2 separate regions of the Homo sapiens genome follow, and region 1 is linked to region 2. The links come from fine-mapping of genetic effects on gene expression. A gene starts in region 2. The other region holds a variant in brackets. All regions are shown on one strand. Distances are from middle to middle. Region 1 overlaps LRRK2 (leucine rich repeat kinase 2). Region 2 holds the start of LRRK2 (leucine rich repeat kinase 2).

Region 1 (2,922 bases), 140 kb before region 2:
AGAGAACCACCTTAGGTTCTATCTTAAAGCACATCTCTGCTCACCCATTCAGAGTGTGTTCAGACAGCAGGCCTTTGGGTCAGGTGCCTCCCTGTCTTTTGCTTGAAATCAGGGTGATAGGATCACTCCAAATGCCTTGACAAATTAGAAAGAACCACGTACGTAGGTGCCTTTAAGCAGCCAGATTCTGAATTGTTATTAGAAACAATGACACCCTGGATGAGAAACTGGCTAGCATGGAGAATGAGGATGTCAGTTTCTCCCGAGTTGACATAGTTTACTATTTTACTGAATTGCTGATAAGCCTCCATGAAAAACATTCAATTTACCAGGTTAGGTGTTCAGCTACCCAAAGTGATGGATAAAGAAGCAAAGTCCCAATGGTTTTGAATTTTATCTCCCCTCAATATTAGAACATTTGCATCCTTACATTTAACTTAGGAAAATTGACAATCTTTTTTTGGTAATTCTGCTATGTTTCATCAATATATTTCACTGCCTTGATGAAAAATAAGTTGCGTTTTAGTTGAAATAGTTCACACATAATCGATAGAGTACCTACCAGAATTAGAGTCAAAGAGGCTCCCTTTTCTTAATTCAAAATTTTCCCAAAAGAATATTTTGTTACGATAATATGCTTGTATTTTGATCATAATTAGCAAGTTATTTTAGGCTTCTAATCAGAAAACAGTTGAAGTGACTGTGCCTTTTTTTTGTATATGTCATTTGCTCTAAAGTCTTATATTTTGTTTCAGTACTCAAGAGCAAACAAGTTTACTTACAAAAACTTTTTAAGAGAACTTGAAAATAGAATGTATCATGCCCATCAGATTTTGTCCTGGGATCCTGGCAACTATATGTATTATAGAAAATTAAATTTAAATATTCCATAAGTTATCAAGGAAAAAACTTTAGTTGCACTTTCTTATTGTGGAATGTCCCATATACAAATTAATACAAAGTTTCCTATGAGATGGATAACAGACCTATATGTGAAAAGCAAAACACTATCACAAAGTTTAAAAATTCATAAACATGCTTAAAAGCATTTAAAGTTTTTAAAAAACCTTTATTATTCCATTTAAATATGGTATTCATTTTTTTAATTTGTCTTTGGTAAAAAAAATTGCAAATACAAAGTAACAATGAAAGAGATAACACTGGAACAAAGAGCTCTATTATATATGATTTTTTTGTTAATTACATAACAAGTTAAAGCATAGCTTCCTTTAAAATACAGAAAATCTTTCATCTTTAAGAATTTGATTACCCTTAATATAAATAAATTTAAAGTTTTCACATAGTAAAATGCCATAAGTTCTGAGAATATTAAATGTACTAGTTGTCCTATCACAGGGAATTATCTGAAATAATGAATACTGGTCAGGGCCAAAGAATTTACCGAAAGTACTTTTCCTAAAGCAGAAATGACCTCAAATTATTACATAGGTATTTGGCCCTGATACTCCTATTGTGGTAAGCTATGTAAACAATTTAAGTATAATTTGGAAGCCTAGGGTGGCAGATATTTTTATCCATCATAACTAAAGCTCCTTTCTCCTTCAGCAACTGAAAAGTGTTAGATATTTATCCTCATGGTCTTGGTAGGAGCTGTGGAATTCTATAATTCTGAAAAAAAAAAA[G/AAAG]GTTTCTATCTGAATGATGTAGGATCTGCAGCATCACAAATTTAGGGAAAAGATGAATATAAGCATTAGAATGAAGCAGATTAGAAAACAAGTAGCTAGTGGTATGAATAAAAAAATAAAAATATCACTTGAAGGACTGAACACTGTATTTACACTAATTATACAAAATTCAGGGTATCCACATTCAAACATAGAGTTGAAAAACAACTCTATTATGTCTAGGAAAGACACAGAGAGTTTCTGTGACAAAGAGAGTTTCTGTGTCTTTCCTAGATATGAGGACTTTGACAGTATGTCATGTTTTTTCATTAGTACTTTTAATGGAGTTTTCTTTTGAATTGAGTGAAGTTGTGTAAGATGCACTGTTTGCAACAGCAACAAAGAGAATTCACATACCAACAAAGGACTTTATTAGTGCAAATTCATTTGAATATTTACAAGCATATATGATAGTGCATTTCGATGCAATCTAAGAAGGAATACATTACATGGGAAACTGTCTTAATATTTTCATTATACCGTGCAGATTTCTAGAAAAATCGACAAGCAATAGTCCTGTCTTAAGCACAGAATTTAAAATAAAGTTTACCTCCATTACAGACAAGAAAACAAAAAATTATCGGCCTTATAAATTTTAGTATGAGTACTTAAATTAGGTACTTCACAGATTTATTTTCATTAATTAATGAACGAAAGTAACTGGTATTTATAAGAAATATAACATTGTGTTTTAAATAGTTCTTTAAAATACACATTTACTGGTAAGTATTTTTACATATATTTAAATTAAAAATAATAACATTCCTTCATACACACGAGCTATTTCAAAAAATGTGAGTACCCTTTCCATGTGAACATTTTTAAAATAAATATTTACAAGAGGAGAGAATAATTTTCCTATCCAAAGACAATTCCTATTTCTCTCTTACTCAACAGATGTTCGTCTCATTTTTTCAGCTAATTCTTTTCTCACTTCAATGTGTTTTTCTAAATTTTGCACTTCATGTGGAAGATTGATGTCCCAAACGGTCAAGCAAGATTGTATCTCTAGAAAAAGAAAAAAATGAAATCATGTTTCAAAGATCCATCATAAAACATTCTTATTTTATTTCAGTTTGGCTCATGTATTTTTAGTTGACTTAGATAAATGTAAATATAAACACAGCTATAACTAATGTACTAAATTATTATTTATAAAAAACTATACTTGGAAAAGTTTTATAATACATTATAGAAACTATTAAATTTCAAATAGAGTATCAACATTTAATAAATTAAC
Region 2 (2,922 bases):
CAAGATACATAGCAAATTTCTGGGTTTCCTATGGTACAGATTGTAAAAGTTTCACTTCTACATGCATTTTATATGACAACAGTTGCAAACTATGAGGGTCTCATAAGACATCACTTTCTTTAGATACTACAAGGTATACTACAACTAAAGGCTAGAAATCTTTGAATTTTAAAAAGTGCTGAACTCTACAAGAGTTTGCTAGTGACAAAGTTGCATTTTATCACTATTAATTATTCCCCTTTTCCAAACTATTCATAATCTTCTCATCTAGGACATGCTCTGTATTGGGAAGATACTTGGAATAGTCAAGTCTAAACACTAATGAATTCATCTTGCCAATAACGAGACTAAAACCGAACCCATTTTTATCCTCCTTCTACCACCATCCATACTGTTGGTTTTATAAAGTTACTTCTTAAAGACACTCAGGGAACACATACTGGGGCTCTTCATCCCGTTTACATTGCGTAATGATTTAACAATATTCCCATCTTAAAATCACAGTCAGAGGTTCCTCAAGCCAAATTTTGGGAATAACCAAGAACTCTCGGCTATATTAACATTGCCAGTAAAACGTCTCCTTCCAAACAGAAGGGAGAATGAGTTGAAGTGAAAACAATGCCTTTACCTGCTGCACACTCGCGACTCTCATATAGGAGTCCAAGACGATCAACAGAGGCACATGGATATTTTTGCCTTGAAATAACTTGGAGGCTGGAAAACAAGTGGGTGGGGAAAAGAAGCAAAGTCACAATCCACAGCACCCCCTCTCCTTTTTAGTCTGAAACGGGGAGAAAAGTCAAAAAGGTGAAGACCTTCCTGAAATTCTCAGCTGCTTTCTGCCCTAAGGAAAGGATATGGGAGTTTGCGGCTCCTTAAGAGTCCGGGTTTGAGCAGGGTCAAGGGGAGGAGGACAAAATTTGCAAATGTAAGGAGGGGGAGAAAGTTTGCAAAAATAAAAGCACAGTTTATTTTCAAGTGATTACCGCGCTCGGAGTACGTGAACACCAGCAGATCCTCCAGGATTTGGACCAGCGTTTCTATCTGTTTTCCTTCCTGGACATTGTTCAGCCTGACTATCAACTTCTTCAGAGTTTCCTCGTCCTCTTCGCACCCCTGACAGCTGCCACTAGCCATGGTGGCACCTGCTTCCAACCCGCCGCCCTCCCAGCATGAACGTCCGCTGCTCAGGGAACCGGCAGGGGCGCCGGCCACAGCTCCCCGGGGGCGAGCTCAGCTCACCGCCCGCAGCCAGCGCTCCCCGCGGGCCCCATCGGCGCCCACGCCCGCCTGTTTATGAGGAAGGAGGCAGCTCCCCGCCCCGCGTTGCCCTCCCTCTCCGGAGCCCTCCTGCTCGGCTTCCTCCTCCCCCACTCAGGCCCCAAAAACGAGCTCAGGGGCCTGCCAGAGGCTCCGCCGAGGCGACGGGCCGCGCAGAACTCTGGCGGCGGCCGTGGGGCTGCTGGAGCCGGGCCTGGCTGGGATGACCGTGACCGTGGCCCCCACGCACGCCTAGACCGGACCCCGGGCGGACGCCGCCTCCTGGGACCAGATTCCACCGCAGCGGCGGCGCGGCCGGGAGTCGCGCGGGAAGAAACTGACTCAGCGGACTCCGCTGAGTCCACAGGCCCGGAGCCCCGCAGCGGAGGCGCGCAGTGCGCAGCCCGGCCGGCCACCCTCCGCGACCCGCCAGCCGGGGATCCTGCGGCCCCACGGAAGGTCTGGGAACTGGGAGCAGGAAAAATGAAAGCCGCCTATCTCCAGATCTAAGAATAGAAATCAGGGCGCTGGGAAAAGAGGACACCGCCCAGATGGCCCCTTTTAGGAATACATTGTCTTTAGAGTTCCACCTATAGGGAGATGAGCAATTTTCCCCCAAAGGATGGAAAGAGGGGTTAGCCATCAAAACTGCCCCCGCTACTCTTTTTTATGATTTTTTGTGACTGTTAGTGGGAGAGGAAATAAACATTGTTTCCCTGTGAGTTATCTGAAGCTCTGGTCACCAAAAGGCCACTAAATTAACTTTTGGAAATTTGAGTTGCACTAGGCAGGATCCTGATACTTGGGACACCCGAAAAGTAATCAGCTCTCAGAGCTATTAGAGCTGAGACAAAGGACAGGGTACATGAAATGAAAGGTGAAAAGTTGAGAGAAGCAAACCTAAATACTCTTCTCTTGGTATTCAGAAATACTTATGAGTATGGGTGTCTATAACCCCAAAGTTTTTTGGTTTTGTCTTTTGATTGTTTGTTTGTTTGTTCTGTTAAGTACCTAAGTAATGTGTTTTTAGGAAAAGAAACCTAGCAAGAACATTGTAGACAAGGCTAGGCAAAGATGATCTATCCTTCAGGTGATGTGTCTGTCCTCAAGATCACTTACAAAGAAGAGGATTGGACTGGAAGTTACTACTTCACAATTTTAGTTTTGTTTTCACATCTGTTACTTCAATCCTGATGACAATTCTGAAATGGATACAACTACTACTATGTATCCTTCTTTCACTAGTGAGGAAATTGAGATTTGGAATTGAGAAGTGAAGAGCTTTGCTGGAGTCACACAGGTGGGAAGTTGAGAGCCAGGACTTCAACCCAGCAAATCTCCTAACTCCAGGTAGAAGGTTCTTCATGCTCTACCACTTTAATAAGAATGCTCTAGACTTTGTTAATACATTAGATTAGTAAGATAGCAAACTCCTACTCAACCTGGATATTGGGTCTATGTCTTGTTGTTATAGAGTCTTTAACTTTTACAGAGACATGCTAAAATATTTATAGTTGAAATGGTTAGGATTTCTTTCAAAGTCATCCAGTGGTGGAGGAAAAGATGAAATGTGTGGAGATAGAGATAACGATAACAACTTTTGAATTGATAATTGTTGAAGATAATATGAGATGGGTTCATGTGGTCTGTTCTACTATTGTA

What was found.
Region 1: its variant is fine-mapped to the expression of LRRK2 in whole blood (INTERVAL, PIP above 0.99).

Annotation. Positions count from the first base shown.
Region 1 is chr12:40,367,412-40,370,333 of GRCh38, reverse strand. It overlaps LRRK2 (leucine rich repeat kinase 2), which reads right to left. Exons shown (of 51, transcript NM_198578.4): 51 at 1,049-2,690. The coding sequence ends at 2,569. All of the region lies in intron 5 of LOC105369736 (a long non-coding RNA gene), which reads left to right. Among named protein-coding and RNA genes, the nearest start is that of MUC19, 25 kb to the left of the region's middle. The variant G/AAAG (reference allele first, on the strand shown) is at 1,644.
Region 2 is chr12:40,223,347-40,226,268 of GRCh38, reverse strand. LRRK2 (leucine rich repeat kinase 2) reads right to left here and starts at 1,272. Exons shown (of 51, transcript NM_198578.4): 1 at 987-1,272; 2 at 629-714. The coding sequence starts at 1,137. It overlaps LRRK2-DT (LRRK2 divergent transcript), which reads left to right and starts at 2,447. Exons shown (of 9, transcript NR_186757.1): 1 at 2,447-2,610. It overlaps LINC01779 (long intergenic non-protein coding RNA 1779), which reads left to right and starts at 1,366. Exons shown (of 1, transcript NR_186584.1): 1 at 1,366-2,922. RefSeq lists a silencer at 1,147-1,506.